Regions from separate parts of the Homo sapiens genome. Here region 1 is linked to region 2. Evidence: fine-mapped expression QTL. A gene starts in region 2. The other region holds a variant in brackets. All regions are shown on one strand. Distances are from middle to middle.

The links.
Region 1: its variant is fine-mapped to the expression of AMPD3 in blood mononuclear cells (TOPMed, PIP 0.96).

Annotation. Positions count from the first base shown.
Region 1 is chr11:10,497,577-10,508,658 of GRCh38, forward strand. AMPD3 (adenosine monophosphate deaminase 3) reads left to right here. Exons shown (of 15, transcript NM_001025389.2): 11 at 2,510-2,673; 12 at 3,894-4,014; 13 at 5,145-5,318; 14 at 6,973-7,083; 15 at 8,132-10,003. The coding sequence ends at 8,308. MIR4485 (microRNA 4485) reads right to left here and starts at 10,750; the gene lies at 10,694-10,750. It also overlaps the pseudogene MTRNR2L8. RefSeq lists an enhancer at 2,493-3,086. The variant C/G (reference allele first, on the strand shown) is at 5,483.
Region 2 is chr11:10,451,278-10,460,983 of GRCh38, forward strand. It overlaps AMPD3 (adenosine monophosphate deaminase 3), which reads left to right and starts at 3,987. Exons shown (of 15, transcript NM_001025389.2): 1 at 3,987-4,171. RefSeq lists a silencer at 1-33 and enhancers at 464-593, 4,862-4,911, 7,711-7,840.

The DNA of each region.
Region 1 (11,082 bases), 47 kb after region 2:
GGAGCCCGAGGGCTGGGGCACGGGGAAAGAATTGAGTCTGTGTGCCCAGAAAGTGACTGGACAAGCTGAGGGACATCATCAAATTTATGTTTTAGACAAACATATTCTGGCTGTTGTGTGGAGTTGGCCCAGAAGAGAAGGTAGCTGGAGGTGGGGGCAGGGGTGAGAGTCAGGGGCCTGCCTGGAGACAGGAGGGGAGCTTGACCCAGCGGAAATAGCTCACACTCGTGCGTGCTTCTGCCTGGCCTGGTCAGACGCCACAACGTGATCTCACCTAAGCCTCACAATTACCCCGTTACTATCACCATTTTGTTGTTAACAGTAAGCGGAATTATTATGTGCTTGGTGCGTGTTGGACACGGTGTTGAGTGCTCTCCCTGGATTATCTCATTTAATCCTCACCAAAGCCCTGTGAAGCTGCTAGCTTCAATTGACACACAAGGAAATTAAAACAGATCATAAAGCTAAAAGTGGCAGAGCTGGAATGCGTTTCCAGGCAGGCTGACTCCAGCGATGTACCCTGAACCCCTATTCTATGTTGCCTCCCAAGTGAGAATAGTAAGGTGCACAGCAGCTACCAGCTTGCGTCTCTGAGGTGTGGCAGCGCAGGGACTCTGCACAAAGTGTGGGGCTTGGTGAGAAGCGGTGGGCGTACACCTGGCAGGACCTGGACAGAGACTGAAGGAGGCACTGGGGGGAGTCTAGGATGCCTCCCAGGTGCCTGGCTTTGCAGGAGCATGGATGATGTGCTGTCCGAAGGTTGCTGCCAGCAATGGAGGAAGAGCAGGTATGGGGAGGAGGAGGAAGAGCAGGAGGAGGAGACAACGCATTTTGCACCCGAGGCTGTGGGAGATGCAGTGGTGAGGCCCTGCTTCAGCTGGATAGAGCTCTGAAGAGGGGCTGAAATTATCCGCATGCCAGGCCCCAGAAAGTTCGGGTGAAGTATGGAGCTAGTGAGCACAGAGCAGAGCTCAAGGTCCTCCCTGGCCCCCCAAACCCGTCTAGGGAGTGCTTAGGGTCATAGCAGGGACCCTGTCATTTCCTTTGACACACAGGGCTCTGTGACACGGAAGATTCTGGCCAAGCTGCCTTGCTCCTCTGGGCCTTTGCTGCCCCCATAGGAACAGGAGAGGCCAGCAGACCTGGCTGGGGTCTGGGGCGTGGGCTGGGAGCCCTCCAGTTTGGGCCAGTTGTGGATTAAGGGGGACAGTCTCTTTCTCCCATCTGCTATTCAGAGGCCCCTTTGCAAAGCACTGCCGTGGCCTGGTAGCAAGCCTCCCCTGTGCGCTGAGAGCCCGTACCCTCCATGCATGTGTTCTTGGTTGGGGATGACCCCTGGGATCAGCCAGAAGGCTCCAGTGACTCAGGAGCAGCCCCCCAGGGGTCCCAGCCAAGGTAGAACTGCAGTGGAAGGGTGGGGGTTTCCTGAGGCTACTCAGGCCCATCTCAGAGGGCAGCTCCCAGTGGGGATTGGAGAGCAGAGCTGCCTCCCAGGAGCCATGGCTTAGCCCAGCAAGGACCCTCTTATCTGTCTGTGAGGCAGCTGGCGGGTTTCTCCTGGCCACACCTGGACATGCCCTAGAGTATTCTCTACCTACCGCCCCAAAGAGTGCAGACCCAGAGCCCAGAACCTGTTTTTTTTGTTTGTTTGTTTTTTGTTTTTTTTAGATGGAGTCTTGCTCTGTCACCCAGGCTGGTGCGATCTCGGCTCACTGCAACCTCCACCTCCGGGGTTCAAGTGATTCTTCTGCCTTAGCCTCCTGAGTAGCTGAGATTACAGGTGCACGCCACCATGCCCAGCTAATTTTTGTATTTTTTTTTACTAGAGACGGAGTTTCACCATGTTGGGCAGGCTGGCCTCGAACTCCTGACCTCGTGATCTGCCCGTCTCCTCCTCCCAAAGTGCTAGGATTACAGGCATGAGCCATCATGTCTGGCCAAACCTGGTTTCTTGAGCAACTTTCTTAATTGCTTTGGCCCTGGTTTGCTCAATTGTAAAATGGGGCTGGCAGCCAACCCCTCCCTCCTGGGTTGCTCTGAATATGAATTAACTGACGTGAGTAAAGTGCTTTGAGCAGGGCTTGATGAGTGATGTGTACTAGGACCCTTTTCCCTCATCGCTTGTCGCTGCTGCTGATGGCAATGGCCACTCCTCCCTGCAGGCTGGCCTCGGCATAGCAGAGGGGCAGGTGGTGGCCATGGCTGCTTTGCCCTTCACCTGGCTTGGCAGTTTCCTCCACTGTCACCACCACCACACAGGGGCTTGGCACTCTCCTGTCTCACCTCCAGAGTACCTATGGAAGCTCCGAAGGGGCAGACCTTGGTGTTGTACCCACTTTTCATCCCTGGGAGGAATATGGCCTCAGGCAGGCCAAGGGGTCCCCAGCTGAGGTGTGAACCTGAGGGGCCCAGACCCACAGGCCTCTGGCAGCTATGAGCTCTGGGAGGCTGAACCGAGGCTGAGTCCTGGTCCTGCCTTGGCCTGGTGCTCAGGACCTCTCCTGCCCAGGTGACGGGGTTTGACAGCGTGGATGATGAGTCCAAGCACAGCGACCACATGTTTTCCGACAAGAGCCCAAACCCGGACGTCTGGACCAGTGAGCAGAACCCACCCTACAGCTACTACCTGTACTACATGTATGCCAACATCATGGTGCTCAACAACCTCCGCAGGTGCGTGAGGCCTGCCCTCGCACATGCTTGGGTTCATGTGTTAGTACATGCACGCATGCACACACATGCACACACACATGCATGTGATCCTTGTGTCCGTGTGCACCTGAACCAACATGCATGTCCATGTGCCCACACACCTCAAAACACACAGCACTTTCCAGCCTGCTATATGAGGCATGTCTCCACATGATCACACACATGCAAACATGCCCACCATAACACACATGCCAGTACAGACATATGTCATGTACAGTATGCAATGCAGCCACAGTCCACACGTGTCCACACATTTATATGTACACACACCAGGGCACACTCCACGTGTACCTGTACATCCCTGAGATAATGGAAGCATAGGACATGCTATCACACATGCACGGTCACTTACTGCCACACCAACAATGTCCACACGTGCATATTTTCGTTCAGCAAATCACTGCATCTGGCATGCGATAGGCATTGCCCTGGGCACTGGACAAATAACGGGGAACAAAACAGACTAAATCCATGCATGCCCTTACAGGCAGAGGCTCCTACCAATACGCACACAGACGAGGCACACGTGGCCAGGAGTTAGCTGCCCAGGGCAGCAGGACACTGAGCCATTCCCTTCCCTACAAGTCTTGCATCCCACTTTCCCCTGCTGGGCCCTGGGGTCTCTCTAGCTCAGCCTAAACTGGTGCTAGTTGGTGGGTGTGGAGGTTTCGAATGGGGTCCTGATTGAAAGAAATGGCCTGGCAGGGTGGAGGCAGTCCTGGGCTGAGCTTTTGGAGATGGGGGCTCTGGTTCTGGCTTTGCTACTGACCTGTTCAGTGGCATGGAACATAGACTTCACTCTCCGGGCCTTGGTTTGCCCATTTCCATAACACAGAGGTCAGACTCTGTGGTTTCTCATGGCCTTCCCTGCTCTGGAGTTCTACGAATGCGGGACACAAGGCCAGGAGAGGAATTCAGGAGAGTGGCTGGAGGGCACAGCAGGGTCTCTTTCTACTGCGAGGCCCACTCTCTGCCCGTAGAGGTGATGCTTCTTGGTTCTAAGGGGCCCCAGGGCCTGGACCTCTGCATTTTAGGAGGGGTAGTTTCCAGGGTGCACTGGGTCAGCACAGCTGACCATGGGTGGTCATTCCCCCCGGAGCTGGCCCTGAGCTGTGGCTGCAGGCCCCAGGCAGAGCCAACTGGGGGGGGCCTTCCTGATTCGGAAACCCCTTCTCTTACAGGGAGCGCGGCCTGAGCACGTTCCTGTTCCGGCCGCACTGTGGGGAAGCCGGCTCCATCACCCACCTGGTGTCTGCCTTCCTCACTGCTGACAACATTTCCCACGGGCTGCTCCTCAAGAAGGTAACCAGGTCACTCTCGGGAGCCCGTCCTGAGTGACTGCCCTGCCCTGGGCTCCTGGGAGGCTCAACCAGTGAGGCCAGAAGGCTGGGCCCTCTTCTGGGCTGGGATGTCTGTCCTTATCTTGGTTTTATTTTTAATTATGAAAGTAATATAATCAAACTCATCACAATTTTGATTTTCCAAAAACTGGAGAAATGGAAAAAAGCCAGCCCTTATGCTATTACATTAATAGAAATAGCCATTATTAGCTTTTTAGTATATCTAATTTCCATCTTTTATCCACAGCATATTTTTAATGTGTTTATTATCATAATGAACACAGAATTTGGTTCCTGCCTCGTCCCTTACTGTTGTATGACAAGCATTTTTTGATGCTGCAACGTAATATCTATGCTCCTTTTTCCAAAGGCTGTTGTTGGATGAAGGGTCTGCCACTTTGTCTGTAATTGACTCAACCAGTCCACACTAGTTGGGCACAGAGTCCATCCACCTTTTCACTGGTGTACCCTTGAGCTCTGTGCATACAGTCTTCTCCGTATTTTGGATCACTTTCCATTGGCACGATGTTTGATCAAAATGCTCCCTTTCCCTGATCCCGGTGAGGTGTAACCATGGGTCACATTTTTGGGTGGGGTGGGTGCTACAGTAGAAAACCACTCTATCCTGGGCAGGTCCACCCCTCCCATCCCTTCAGGGATCATCTCCCAGGAGCTGGAGTGTTTATAGTCTCAACCTGGCTGTTTGCAGTCAAAGCAATAAAACAGCTAGAGGGGGGCATCTTCTAGACTGGGTCCGTGCCTAGGAGAAAGGAGCTGAAGGTGTAGGCTGGAGTGGGCTGCCCTTCCTGCCCTGAGCCTTGCCTCCAGTTTGGAGCAAGAATGAGCACTTCCAACAGTGGGTAGAGGCACCAGGGAGGGCTGGCATGCAATGTAGGAATGAGATGAACAGTGGGGAAGGGGAGAGTGGGTCTGAGTGTCCTGGCTTCGAGGAACTCGGGTTGAGGACTTGGGCAGACATGGTTCAGACCCCTGGTTTCCACTGGTGAATGCTTCTTCCCTTCCTTTCTCCCTTCCCTTTTCCCTTCTCCCCTCTCTGGCACTTGTCACATGAGTTCGGTGGTTCTTTTGCAGAGTCCGGTATTGCAGTATCTCTACTACCTTGCTCAGATCCCCATTGCCATGTCTCCTCTTAGCAACAACAGTTTGTTCCTCGAATATTCCAAGAACCCTCTGAGGGAATTCCTACACAAGGGACTGCATGTTTCTCTTTCCACCGATGACCCCATGCAGTTCCACTACACGAAGGTAAGGACTTTGGGGTGAGGACAGTAGTGCTTCAGTAGGCACCAGTCCTAGCCTGTCCTCCCATTTCAGGAACCTGAGCCCATGGCTTAGTTCTGCTTTTGGGGTGGGGTTGGTGGCCCAGTGAAGGCAGGAAGGAAGCCACTGTTGGGGGAAAATTGTGCCAT[C/G]CAGGAGCCCTTTCTTTGGGGTTCTTGAACCCTCAAAGGCACAATTTAGTATCTTTGCCTTCCTCTATTTTCTCTTTCTTTGACATTTATGAGCTCTGTGACCTTGGTAAAGTTATTAGATTTCTGGATCAAGTTCTTCTTCATCTGTAAAATGGAGATAAAATTTTCTCTGTCCCTACCCTGTAAGGATTCATGAAGATAATGAATCAAAGGTTCTAACATAGTGTCTGCATATATTCAAAATGGTTGCTACTTTTTAAATCAATGCTATTATAATTTCTACACTTTGGGTCTCTGGGAAAATAAAAGAGGAAGCTAACAGTGGTGTCATGCATGGGGACTAGCCGCAAGTATACCCAGCATGTTTTGATGGTGTCGACAAGACCAGCCATTGCTTAACAAAAACAGAAGCACCAGAGTCTTTTAGGACAGAGGTTCTCCAACCTCTTGGTCTCTGGACCCCTTTATACTCTTAAGAATTGAAGCTTTCAAAGACCTGTTGTTTATGTGGGTTATATCTACTGATATTTACCATGTTAGAAATGAATAAGAAATTTTAAAATATTTATTATCTCATTTAAAAACCACATCAATAAACCAATGAAATGTTACATAATAATGATTTTTTTTCTGAAAAGTAACAGTTTCCCCTGCCTTTGTTTTGCATTTTTAAGCCTCTTTAATGTCTTAATGGAAGTCAGCAGGACTCTTCTAGCCACTTCTGCATTCAATTTGTTTTTAATCAAAATATGTAAAAATAGAAATCTTGCCTCATGAAAATACATAATTGGAAAAGACAAGACCTTTCAAAAGGTCTTAGGACCCTCAGGGGTCCTTGACCTGTACTTCGAGAACTATTGCTCTAGGCTACAGCGGCAGTGGGGTGGGGAAGAGGTCACAGACGGCTTGTGATGAATAGACACTTCACATCCCAGAAGGGAAGCAAAACCACAGCTCAAACCCAGATCATTCTGGGATTACACCATTTTACCACTTATCCTATGATCACTTCTCATTTTTTTTTTGATGTTCCATCTCTGCTTTTAGTACTTTACTCATCTATCTATCTATCTATCTATCTATCTATCTATTTATCTATCTATCATCTATCTATCTATTGCAAACTTAAGAAAATAGTGTGTTAAAAAGAAAAGCTAGAGGGCAAGTGCTAAATGTGGCATGACTAGAGGGCTTGTCACAGGAGAGCAGAGACTGCCATCCCTGATGACTGGCACAGGGTTTCAACATGAGGTCTCAGTGCTGGTCAATGAATAAATGTAGAGGCGTGATTTTAGATCTCTCTTTGATAACCCATGATTTTACAGAAGAAAAGATCTTAGGCTTTGAAGGTGTGATGTTTGATGATCCAGGTGCCATTTAGTGAGGAAAAGTTAAACCCGCAGTGTCTGATGTTGTTAGCTTTGGACATGTGTGAACGATTGACATGGATATCCCCCCTTCTAATCCACATGCTTTGGGGGAGGATCTAGGAAGCACTTATGGAAGAATATGCCATTGCAGCTCAAGTGTGGAAGCTGAGCACCTGCGACCTGTGTGAGATCGCCAGGAACAGCGTGCTGCAGAGCGGCCTCTCGCATCAGGTATGGAGTGTGACGGTGCTGCCTGTGTCCCTCCTGGGAAGGCTGCCTGCTGTGTGCCAGGAGCCTTCCAGGCACTGGGGATCTGTGATGAACATAGCAGGCAGGGCCTCTGAGACACTCAGGCACAGGGAGAGAAGACGCGGCAGCCTCCTGTGTTTTCATGGCTGCTTCCTCACCCTTCTCAGACCTCTACGCCTCCTTGGAGAGGCCTTCCCTGATCGCCCATTCTAAAATAGCCACACACTTGCTATTATTCTCTATCCCCTTAATCAGTTTTTCTCCATACCATTTATTCCTGCTGATGTTTAGTTATGTGTTTTTCTGTCTTTCCCTCTAGCATGTAAGCTCTGTGAGGGCAGAGGTTTGTTCAGAATTATATCCCCGGGCCCTAGATAGTCCCTGGCACATAGCAGGCGCTCAATATTTCTTGAATAGATGAACAGTATCTAGACTGAATAAAAATCTAGACTATGGGACTCAGACATCTGTCATTTTTTAAAAAGCCTGATGAGGAGCTGGCACTGAGACCCATGTTCTGATGTACGTTAGGTCCCCCGACACCTCCCTGGGTGATGTCACTGGTTGGGAAGAGGTTGCATTAGGGGCTGTGCTCGTCGGATGATGATGCAGCAGAGTTAAAGGCTTAAGATTCTTTTCATGCGCAGTGTGGTGCCTTGGATTGGCCCTCCCCAGGAACATTGTCCTTGTCAGCTCTCAGGGGCTTCTTAATTAGAGTCTTACCTCCTTCCCCTTTGCCTTTCCCATCCCCAGCAGCTGCTGCAGACCTTATCTTTCCTCTCTGATCAAGGAAAGCACAGCCAGGAATGAAGGGCTGTCTGAGGATGACTGAGGTTGTCAGGGTGACATCCTTGAGGACACAGAGGCCAGCAGGAATTTTAAGAGTTCTGTGGGGATAAGATGTCCTGACCAAAGATCTGCTTCAGGGGGACTAGTCTGACTTGCTGTGACTGATGTCAAAGCTGCCCACATGGCTATAGAAAGTGAATCAAAAGTATATAGTTTCATTTGTATTTCTCTTGGTCCACAGGAAAAGCAAAAGTTTCTGGGACAAAATTATTATAAAGAAGGACCTGAAGGAAATGATATTCGAAAGACAAATGTGGCTCAGATCCGGATGGCATTCCGATATGAGACCTTATGCAATGAGCTCAGCTTCCTGTCTGATGCTATGAAATCAGAAGAGATCACCGCCTTGACCAACTAGGTCCAGCATTTGACATGCATTTTAACTTTTTGGTTCAATTTCAAGTCTGCTGTGGCTAATAGTGGTCAAGATTCCGAACTAGGACTTTCCTCTGTGAAGAGGATGCCTCTGAAGAAATTTTAAACTGGTGATTTTGGTTGCACTGCTCACTTTAAGAGTTAACATGCTCACTTGTTAGTATTTCTGAGTAACAAGATGGTGACTTCTCCTTGGGGATCTGGGAGCTGAGCACTTGTCTATACTTGTTCCTAATTTTCCAAGTATTTCTCTTGAAACTGCCAGTGCCTGAACTGTTGGGGCCAGGATTTTCCCTGGTCAGATGCCAAGTAACATGTGGTTTTCTGCCATACTTTTCTCCATTGGCCCAGGTAGGCTAATTGGTAGTTGTTCATTTCAGCCTCTGGATGGCTGGCTGCCTTAAACACAATCAATTTCAAAGCTCCATTTCATAAAGGGGCTACTTTGAAGGAGTTAAGATGGAAGACTTCCTTCTTGACAAATTGTGTTTTTAGTGAATTTCTTAAACCGTTTTATTTAGCCCTCCTTCCCTCTTTCTAGTTGGAAGCCAAATGTACTCATGAAAACAGCCACTCCTATTCTGAGTCTTGGTTTCTTCACCTAGAAAGTGAGGGTTTGGACTAGATGAGTGGCTTTCAGGGTGTTCTGTGAATCTCCTCATGAATACTTTAGGGTAGGGGAGGGAAGGGAGTGAGTGATGCTCAGGGGCTGTCAAAGTGACTGCGTTCATCAGTTTTACACTGGGGCTGCTACATAATATTTTCATTTGAACGAAGAACTTCAAAAAGCACAGGACTAGATGATCTCTGTTCCTTTTGGCTCTAATATGCTACAACTGTAGGCCAATTATCACTTTACCAATTAAGAGTTAGGCCAGATAAGTGAAATTTAACTTAAGGGCACACAGCTAATAAGTAATAGGCCTAAACTGGATTTCCTTATTCCAAATCCTGTCTTTTCCCCACTATTCCATTAGACCCCACAAATGTTAGTTGTGTGTGTGTGTGTGTGTGTTTTTAATCACTGTAACCGGATGCATTTTTTTAAGGCAAAATTTCTCCCTTATCTACTATGATGACTTCAGAAGATACAATGGTCCCAGGGGCCAAGTAGAAAGCATTTTTAAAGATTAATCTGAATTAAGCTTTATCAGTGTACTCTTTATCTGTGTTACTAGTGCCTGGTATGTAGTAGGTGCTCAATAAATGCATATTGAATAACTAAGTGAATTTCTTTTGGCAACTTTTTAAGGACATGTGCTCTTAGTACTTAAGAGGCTGCTCAAGGACCTTCCTATCTATTTCTGTGGTCAAATTCAGACTACAGGAGGTCTTTTTGAATCATTATAGTTAGAAGAAGAATCCAGTTTCTGCCTGTGAACTTATTTGACTTTAGATTGTCTCATCTTGTGACTTTATAATGCCTGTCCCCTCCACTGGTCAATTCAGCATATGGAAGTATAAATGCAGTCTTTTTACTAGGCAGATATATATGCTATCTTACAGCTAATTATGAAATTGAATGAAAATCCATTGTTATCTTAGGGATTAGTTTTGAAAAGCCCCCGTTTATATACATTTGCCCTAACATAGGAAGTATTGTGTAGTTTCTCATTGTCATTTTATCTGTATCAAGTATCTTTTTTTAAATTGTTAAATAAAGTCAGCTAGGACTGTGGCTCAATAGTTTAAAACTATTTAAAGATAATCATATTTAAAGCAAATGTTAAAGATTTTTACTCTTAAGATTGGGCACCATGAAAAGCTATCAATAATAATAGCTAATTTATCTTTTACTAAGACTCCGACATGAATGACATTCACTAGGAAAACTCAAAATTTTCAAACTGAAGCTCACCAGACCCAGAAGATAAATCTTCCTTTGTTATTTTCTCTAACTTCTACCCTGTTATAGTTCATGAGCAAAGCTATACATGTTCCTTTCCTTTTCCCGGGGTATTATTTTAGTCTGTCCAGCTAACACCTTGTTGATATGGACTCTAGAATAGGATTGCGCTGTTATCCCTAGGGTAACTTGTTCCGTTGGTCAAGTTATTGGATCAATTAAACGTGGTAATTCGCTTTGACTGGTGAAGTCTCGGCATGTGTTGCTCGGAGGTCGGATTGTGCTCCGAGGTCGCCCCAACCGAAATTTTTCACGCAGGTTTGATAGTTTAGGGCCTGTGGACTTGTTAAGTGTTGTTTGCGTTAATGAATTAAAGCTCCATAGGGTCTTCTCGTCTTGTTATACTATGCCCGCCTCTTCACGGGCAGGTCAATTTCACTGGTTGAAAGTAAGAGACAGCTGAACCCTCGTGGAGCCATTCATACAAGTCCCTATTTAAGGAACAAGTGATTATGCTACCTTTGCACAGTTAGGGTACCGCGGCCGTTAAACGCATGTCACTGGGCAGGCGGTGCCTCTAATACTGAGAATGCTAGAGGTGATGTTTTTGGTAAACAGGCGGGGTAAGATTTGCCGAGTTCCTTTTACTTTTTTTAACCTTTCCTTGTGGGCATGCCTGTGTTGGGTTAACAGTGGGGGTAATAATGGCTTGTTGGTTGGTTATAGATATTGGGCTGTTAATTGTCAGTTTAATATTTTGGTCTGATGTAGGCTTATGCGGAGGAGAATGTTTTCATGTTACTTATACTAACATTAGCTCTTCTATAGGGTAATAGATTGGTCCAATTGGGTGCAAGGAGTTCAGTTATGTGTTTGGGATTTTTTAGATGACAGGTGTCGAGCTTGAACGC
Region 2 (9,706 bases):
ATCCCGATTCCCTGGCGGCCTAGAATGGAATCGCAAGGTTTAGAGAAATTAAGGGACCTGGGACTTGCCACCCTGGGCAAAGTTCCTAGGTGCTTGAGGACTGGCTGGATGTGGACAGCTGAGGTGGACTTCTACCTGGAGGCGAGGGATGCACTGGATGATAGGGTGATGAGGTCGTTTGAGGCCTTCATCCTTACCTCTTTGGCTCTCTCCCGGCAAGGGAGGTGTACAGCCTTGGGCTCTGGCAGTCTGCTTTCTGCCCTTGATCTTCTGGTAGCTGCTTTGCCAGCAGAGCTGCTAATGGCTGTTGTAGGCTGGCAGAGGTCCCTGGGGAGAGTTTTGAGAGGCCTTGGAGTAGGAGAGGCTTGCTAACTAGGGTATCATTTCCCCAAACTGTATGTGGCTGAAAGCTTGATGGCGACACATCAGCAAAGGAGCTGGGTGAAAGCAGGCAGCACAAGGAGGGATTTTAGCATGGTCTTGAGCCCCTGTTGGCTTTCCCTCAGGATGCAGTGACCAACATTTGGCCATCTTCATGGAAAAGCTGCCTGCAGCTGGAACCTGCAGAGGAGAAATTCTTTCCCTGGCTGTGCAGCACTAAGGCCGAGTGTTAGTGGAGCCATTGAGCCAGACAGACAGAGCCTCTGTCACTTCACACCTCTAGGAGTGTTGACAGCAGGTCTGGGGTAGTTGGCCTGGCCTGGCTGCAGCTTCATGGGGCCTGGCTTGCTCTGAGGATGATGGTATGGGGCTGCCCTCTCTAGGAATAATGACACCTGCATAGGTGGTGGCTGGGAGACTCTTTGACCTCTCAGTCCCATCCTTAGCTCAGCCTCTGTCTTCTAAGGTTCTCCTAGCTCTCAGCTAGGTCAAGAAGCTCTTTGAGAGATGAGGTTTTTTGTAGTTGTTTTTTTTTGCCTCTACACTGACTGGATCACTCTTCAAATGGCCTCAAAATCTGTCTCAGGTCTTGAAAATGTCATGGGCAGATAACATGTAGCCTTCGGGTTAACAGGGAGATACCCTTTCTCCCCTAAAGCTGCCCATTGGCCTCCATGATTCTTCCACCAAGTATAATAATCTCTTAGTTCTTCTGTATGCTGGTTGCATATCTAGGACAACAGACAATTGCTTTGGGCTTTTGATTTGTAAGGAACTGACTGGGGCATGGGAGGATGAGCTCATGGCTGGAGTCCTGGCTGTGTACAGTCACCGAGAAGTACCATTCATAGGGGAGAAGGATGTTCCTCCTCCTGATCTGGCTTCACATTTAAATATGTTTTCCTTCTTCCTGCACCCAGGTAATAGAAACTTGGGAGAGTGCCAGGCACATGGTGGTGCTCAATAAATAAGGTTGAATAAAAGGATTCAGTGTCTAGATAAAACTTCATGTTCATTTTCCTAGTTCTTCTCTCTCGTATCTGATATCATAATGATGATGACAATGATGTTGGCAGATAATGCTTATAAAACACATACTCTATGCCAGGTACCAGTCTAAACACTTCACTTATGCTCATTGTCATGGCAACCTATGAGATTGGCTTTTTATTATCCACACTTCATAGGGAATAAAACCGAGCCACAGAAAAGTTATTTAACTTGCCCAAGGTCATACAACTAAGTGGTGGAACAGGATTCAAATGCAGGGAGTCTAGCTGGAGTTTTTTTTGTTGTTGTTTGTTTGTTTGAAATGGAGTCTCACTCTGTCACCCAGGCTGGAGTGCAGTGGCACAATCTCAGCTCACTGCAACCTCCACCTCCCGGGTTCAAGCGATTCTCCTGCCTCAGCTTCCCAAGTAGCTGGGATTACAGGCGCCCGCTACCATGCCAGGCTAATTTTTGTGTTTTTAGTAGAGATGGGGTTTCCCCATGTTGGCCAGGCTGGTCTCAAAACTCCTGACCTCAAGTGGTCTGGCCGCCTCGGCCTCCCAAAGCGCTGGGATTACAGGCGTGAGCCACCACACTCAGCCTGAGTCTACGTTTTTAGCCATACACTCTACTCATTCCTGAGATTGCCATAGGTGGATTGATCTATTATAAATAGCTAGTTCACTTGTTCATTGTTTTATGCATTCATTCATTCAACAAATACTTGCTGAATGTCGACCATATTTCAGGTATGGGGATACAACTGTGAATGAGACAGGCGAGATTTGTCATGGAGCTGGTATTTAGCAAGTGAATCCCCTTTGTCCAACTCCTTGTGTGAGTCACACACACCTCACAAATGAGAAGAAAAATGAACCCCTCTATGCAAGCTCATGCCTGGCTTTTGGGGAGGAGAGTGATATCTTTCTTTTTCTTTTTCTTTTTTTTTTTCTTGAGATAAAGTCTTGCTCTGTCGCCAGGCTGGAGTGCAGTGCAGTGGTGCAATGTCAGCTCACTGCAACTTCTGCCTCCTGGGTTCAAGTGATTCCCCTGCCTCAGCCTCTCAAGTAGGTGGGACTACAGGTGCGCACCACCATGCCCAGCTAATTTTTTGTGTTTTAGTAGAGATGGGGTTTCACCACGTTGGCTAGGATGGTCTCAATCTCCTGACCTTGTGATCCACCTGCCTCGGGCTCCCAAAGTGCTGGGATTACAGGCATGAGCCACCATGCCCGGCCGATATCTTTCTTGATGAGACATAATTTGATTCCGTCCTCTCCTGTCTTTTAGAGTTTGTAAGGGGTGCTTAAGTGATAAAAGGGGATGCAGTCTAGTCTCGGGCAGGAGAAGCGGGCCCTGTATCTGGTTATCATAAATTGTCTTGATGTTTGTTCGAAAGGGAAATAAGGCTTTGAGCTTGGGATCAGTGCTCTTCAGTCCACAGAGACATCTTGGCTGCAAGAAGCAGCAACAAGTTAGGCTCAAGGTGGAATTGTGAGGTCCTGAGAAGAGCTTGCTCTTCTGGGACAGAACTGTATTTTTCTTCTAAACTGCCCATGTTCTGGGGAGTCTTCCCGCCTTTTGGCTTCAGCAGGACCCTTGGTCATTGTTACAACCTGTGTCATCTTAGTGGAGCTGCTGCTGGTTTCTGTCTGAACCCGATGCAATGGGTCTCATACCTGTAAACTGGGCTCCAGGAAGGCAGCTTTCTCTAAGTTGGAAAATGAAGACTCAAGGTGGAGGGTGTTTCCCAAAGCCGATACCACAAGATATTAATAGGTGTTTTTTTCCTATGACAGCAGTTCTAGGATGGTCAAATAAGTGCGTCGGGTTAAACAAAGTTAAGCAGCTTTCTTTACTGCAGGACTTCTCAGGTGTTGAATTTGCTAGTAGAAACTGTGCATGAATACCCATAAGGGACTACAGGATGCAGTGTTTTCCAAGCCTTCTGACCTTTCATGTTCTGCAGACTGCACTTTGAAAAATGCTTGTTTAGACTAAGGCTAGCTGGGATCCGGTTAAAGGTGCAGAATAAAATTCCCTGAACGTGTCGGACTTAAATCCTTGGGCTGGAATCCTCCCACTGCAGTCCCCACTCTACCTCCCCTTTCCCCAAAACACTAGCAGAAAAAGTCATCTGCCCCTCCTCCTTCTGGCAGAATAGTACTAAGGGCTTGGATTTTTTTCTCATACTGTAAGTTCATTTAATTGTTTAATGAATAAATATTACCCTCCCTCTAGGTTGCTTGTAGCCTGCTGGTTGCACTGTTTATGAAACAGCTGTGAGGACAGGTGGGCCGTAATCTCTGGGTAGCTAAAGCCCAGCAGCAGCCCGAGGATCATGTGTCAACCCTGTAATACTGCTCTGTGCACACAGGAATTATGATGTGAGCTCAGTAAGACACAACCTCACGATTGGACATGCGGAGGTGACTCAGGCCCAAGTCAGGGTTACAGCTAGCCTCCCGGTAAACAACTGACCCATCCTTCCTGAGCTCTTCTCCCCAGGATTTCAACAGCACCACAGAAATAGCCATTTTGCTCATGGTTATTTCCCAGGACCACAGGATTTGCCTAAGTCACTGGGAGGCTATGTGTCTGTTCTGAGCCTTCCCACTCTCCTAAAGGGCAGATGAAGATCAGAGCTTTGCACCCTGTGATGCCATTTTAATCAACCCTGCTTGGTTTTAGAGGATTGCTCCTGTGGGTCACTTGAGGCAGGCTCCACCTTCCCCAGGAGGAGTGGCAGAGTCCAGCCAGCGCTCGGAGCTGGAGGCCCACGTGGGAGCAGTGAGCGGCTGTAAGCAGGGGAGGGTTTGGGGTGGGCTCCGGTGGGTCAGTTGGGGTGTACTCCTTTTCTGTGTGTGTGGATGGGGGTGGGGGTTCTGGTAAAGCTTATCAGGCTTCGCAGTCACCTGTGATGTGGGCTTCCTTCTGGGAAGAAAGGAAGGAGTGGGATGGGGCTGTCAGCTTTTCATCCTAGCCTGCCCCTGTCCTCTGTCCGCCTCTGTGCTGAGGCAGTTCCTGCTCCCTGAGTCTCTGTCCTTTCCTGGGAAAGGTGGAAGCAGTTCATGGTCTTTCCCTTTCAGAGGAGGAGGGGATGGAGGGGATTGTATTAGCAACTGGGATTGAAGCTCCCCCTGGCAGTTATGGGGTGCCCTTGGGAGGGCTGCTTTAGGGGGGCTTTCTGAGAAGAGGCAGGTCGGGCTGTACCTGAGACCAATCCCCTTGATAAAATGCAGCCAGGCCTGAAGCACGTTCAGAACGGAAGCAGCAAAGGTGATGATATCGCTCGTTGCTACTCAGCTTTCAGGAGGAGGCTGGGCGTTAGAGGGAGGCTGTGGCTTATCTCCTGCAGCTGGGCAGGACGGCTGAGTTTACTGTTGTAAAGAGGAAGCCGCCGCTTTAGTTTCCTCTTGTGAGGGCTGTGAAGAGGGCCAGGACACTGCATTCAGGATACCACAGCCATTTTGTTTTGGATAACTGGGATTACCTGGGGACTTCAGGGCTCTTGGAAATTTTCCACTCATATTTCATATTCACGAGAGAATTTCCAGCCCAGGCTTTTCCTGCTCTGGCTCACTGCTGCTCACAGATATGCAAAACAGAGACCTCCTACTCCAGCCGGCAGACAGGACCCAGCCAGCTGCACGCACGCACTGACTCAGCTGAGCCTCCTGGGTGGCAGGCAGCACCTCACCCGGGTGCATCACTTGAGTGGCATCTTCAGGACCAGTCATGGAGCCAGGCTCAGGTCTGTGTCGGGGCTTCTGCAAGGGGAGTCTGGCAAGAGTAGGAACCAGCTTCCTTCGTATAACGAGGGGATTTCAGTGGCACTGGGCTTCCTTTCTGGAGGGACTGTGGCACCATGAAAAGTTACTGTTTGTTGAAACTGGCAGTGTTTTAGAACTTTCTAACTTTGGGACACTTCTTCAAGTTCATCAGAGCGTGTTGCATGTAACAGTGAGATAAGCTGTATCATTGGCTGACTGATGCTGGTGAATTCACAGCTAAGCCTCCCAAGCCTGCTGGCTTCAGCTGACAAAGGGTTGGAAGCCAGGCGTGAACATGCAGCTGGAGCTGAAGCTCTGCTTGGCATCTGCAGAGTGAGCTTTCCTTGTCAGGCCTGGCCTGGCAGGTGTCTGGAGGGTCTGAGAGGAGAGACACTCTGGAGGGACGGGTTGGCAGGTGGGAGCTGTCTGCCAAGGACATCCAGAAGGCAGCAGATGTGGGGGCAGCTGCTAAGGCCTGCAGCACCCCAAGTGGGTTACTTGGTCCATACTAAGATATGGAATTAATTATTTTGTTGTGGTTGCTGTTGTTTCTTGCTTTTTTTTTTTTTTTTTTGAGAGAAGGTCTTGCTCTGTCACCCAGGCTGGAGTACGGTGGTGCCATCATGGCTCACTGCAGCCTGCACCTCCAGGACTCGAGCAATTCTCCCAACTCAGCCTTCCAAATAGCTGAGACCACAGGTGCATGCCACCACACCTGGCTGTTTTTTTTTCTATTTTTTGTAGAGATGAGGTTCTGACATATTGCACCAGGCTGATCTCGAACTCCTGGCCTCAAGCGATCCTCTTCAGCCTCCCAAATTGCTTGGATTATAGGCATGAGCCACTGCACCCGGTCTTGGAATGAATTATCTACCAACTATTTAAGACACTGGTAGTAGTTCTGCGGAAGATTTTTATGGGTTCTGTAAAACAAAAAGGGTTCTGTATGTTAATGTTACTCTATGATCCTTGATTTTAATGAGCCTTATGAATGTGAGTTGAGGGGCTGTGGAATGCAACATCTCCCAATAACTGACCACAGGACCTGTTTTACCAGCAACAGGTATCAATTTCTTATGGCATCCAGTTTGGGAAAGGTTGATTTAAGCTAAAGAGAAAGGAAGATATGTTATAGAAAGCTGTGTCCTGAAAAGTATTTTTAGTTGATTAGAGCAAGCTAAAAATGCTTTGTGCGCTGGTATGATGGCTCACACCTATAATCCTAGACCCTGGGAGGCCAAGGCAGGCGGATCACTTGAGACCAGGAGTTCAAGACCAGCCTGGCCAACATGGTGAAACCCCATCTCTACTAAAAATACAAAAATTAGCCAGGCATAGTGGTGTGTGCCTGTGGTCCCAGCTACTCGGGAGGCTGAGGTGGGAGAATCACCGGAGCCTGTGAGGTCGAGGCTGCAGTAAGCTGTGATTGTGCCACTGCACTCCAGCCTGGGCAACTGAGACCCTGTCTCTCAATCAATCAATGAATAAATGCATGCTTCATGAGCAAACATGGCAGGATCTGGCATAAGAGCCCTCAGACATCAAGGACTTCCCTCCCACCCAAATACCCATTGCCAAGGGAGCCTGGTTGGGGGTGTCTGGGTCAGGCCTGTGTGTGTCTGAGGGCATGAAGGAGGTAGGAAGGTGCTGCTGGTGGTGGATGGCTTCTGTCCAGGGTAGGAGCTAACACAGAGATAGGTCTGAATGGTGAAACTCCCTTTGGCCTGGCCTCTCAATAGTGTGGGTTAGGCTGATCTTGAACTCTTAGCCTCAAGTGATCCTTCCTCCTCAGCCTCCCAAATTGCCTGGACAACATGGCAAAACCTCATCTCTAAAAAAAAAAAAAAAAAAAAAAATTAGCCAGGTATGGTGATGCTCCCTCCCTCCCTCCCTTCGGCAATTAAGGAGGGAGCCCTAATTGCCAAAACCTGCCAGAAAAAGAAGTTTGTTTTCCTATTTTTCTCTCTTTTCATAGAGTCTTAAGTCTACTCATTTTCTTTCTATTCTCTTTGTATTTGTTAAAAATGGCATTATAATAGCATTCATCATCAAAATAAAATATCCTCTCACACACAGGCAGCCCTGCCACCTGGTCATTTTGACTGCGTGAATCTCTTGCAGGTCTTGCCCATAAAGGGATGCATTTTCCTTTCACTGTAAATAAAGCATGGGTATGGTTCTATGTATTAATTTTTTCATTTACTGTATTTTTATTTTTTTATGTGATTGCACCATCCTCATAATCATAATTCTGATTACTTAACATCTTTTTCAAGTGAGTATGCTCTAATTTAGGCATTTTAAAGCTATTTATGTAAATAATGCAGGTAAATATCCTTGTGCTTTTCATTCTTAGGATTCTTTTTTTGAAAGAAATTTGTAGAAGTAAAGTTGCTTAGTCAAATGGTATGGTGCTTTATGGCATTTGCGGCCTTTTGCCTGGGCTGTTGGGTTGCATATCTTCTTCTGAGATGCGATGTGAGGTTTTGGGATGGTGCCCTTGATTGGTGGCCTTGGAATAAGGGGGGAGGTGAGGATCCAGTTTCGTTTCAGCCTGATGGAGCCTCCTGGGTCTGGTTCTTTGTGCTGTTCCAGACTTTCTCTCCCCTGTCACCTCCTTTGATGGCCTCCAGCTTCCCCCCTCTCTGCTATCAAGACATGGAAATCCCCACAGGCAGCTCTGTTCCTCTTCCTTTTTGCAGAGGCCAGGCCTCGCTGTCTTGATGTCTGCTCCCCAGACAGTTGTGTGTTGACAGGCTGTTCCCCACCAGCTCCCTCCCACTCCTCTCATCAGGGAGTGGCAGGTCCTTGGGTCTCAGAGTTAAGGGAGCCACAGACCTCACTCTGATTGCCTGTTGCTAGCCTGCTTTCTTCCTTCCTGTCTGTGTCATGACTTAGTCCCACATGCCACTCAGACTCAGAGCAGCAAGCCCTCCTCAGGCACCGGAAATCTCTCTGGTACCTAGAATTATGCCACTTAGAGCTGAGAGGGCCTTAGAGACCACTTAGTTCAATCCCTTTATCTCACAGATGAGAACATTGTGAGGCCGGAGAATGACTGTCCCAAGATGGCCTAGTGTGTTCCCCTCCCCTGTAGCTGCACTTCTCCCTGCTGGACAGCAGCAGGGCTCTGTCTCATCTCCATTCTTGTCTGTCTGGTCCACAAAACCACTTCTCTCTTTAAACCAACTTTAAAGAAACTGTGGTCATAGGTAGATGGGAAACTCCTCTTCCAGAGCTGCTCCCAACGAGGGTGGCTTGTCGAAAAGGGTGCAGTATTAATCCATTCCACAAGTGTTATGCTGGGGACTGTGAGGAGCCCCTGCCCGGACACATACGTGGACAAAGAGAAGCAGCACAGCATGGTGGGTGAGGGGACAGAGGCAGGAACCAGGTGCCTGGGTTCAGATCCCTGAGCTGAGGATCAGAGAGGAAAGGGATGAGAGAGAAAGGCTGAGAACAGCACAAATCTCTGCTGACTTATTAAAAGTGTGACCCTGGGCATGTTAGCTCTCTATGCCTTCATTTTCTCATCTGTCAAGTGGGAATAATAAGATTAACTGAGTTAATAAGTATGAAGTTCTTTGCAGAGTATATATATGTATGTATACATATATAAAATATATATTATATATAATATATATTATATATAATATATATTTTATATATATATATATATTTTATTTTTAAAATTGAGACGAGGTCTCACCCTGTCTCCCAGGCTGGAGTGCAGTAGTACGATCATAACTCACTGCAGCCTCAACCTCCCTGGCTCAAGAGATCCTCCTGCCTCAGCCTCCCTAGCAGCTGGGATTACAGGCATGCATCACCATACCTGGCTAATTCTTTAAATCTTTTTTAGGGATGAGGTTTTGCCATGTTGTCCAGGCTGGTCTCAAACTTCTGGGCTCAAGCAGTCCTCTTGCCTTGACCTCCCAAAGTGCTGGTATTACAGGCGTGAGCCACCACACCCGGCCCCAGAGTATACTTTTTTTTTTTTTTTGAGGCAGAGTCCCACTCTGTTACCCAGGTTGGAGTGAAGTGGCTCAATCTTGGCTCATTGCAACCTTCACCTCCTAGGTTTAAGCAATTCTCTTGCCTCAGCCTCCTGAGCAGCTGGGATTACAGGTGCCTGCCACCACGCCTGGCTAATTTTTTTGTATTTTTAGTAGAGACGTGGTTTTGCCATGTTGGCCAGGATGGTCTCAAACTCCTGACCTCAGGTGATCTGCCCGCCTCAGCCTCCCAAAATGCTAGGATTACAGGCGTGAGCCAATGCGCCTGGCCAGAGTGTACATATTAAGTGCTATACAAGTAATTGCAAAAAAGGAAAGAAATAAGGAAATGAAGAAAGCAAGCAAGCAAGAATGAAACCCAACCAACCAAGCAGGTGGTTGAGGCCAGTGACTGTTAGTAAGGAATCAGTATGCGAGGAGGTGGATAGAGAAAGCTTCTTTGAGGGAGTGAGTTTTCAGCTGGGTAAAGAGTGTTCTAAAACCTTTATTTTATTTGCTGTGTCTTGTTAGGAGGTTCCAGAGGGTTTGGAACTGCAATAGCAGATT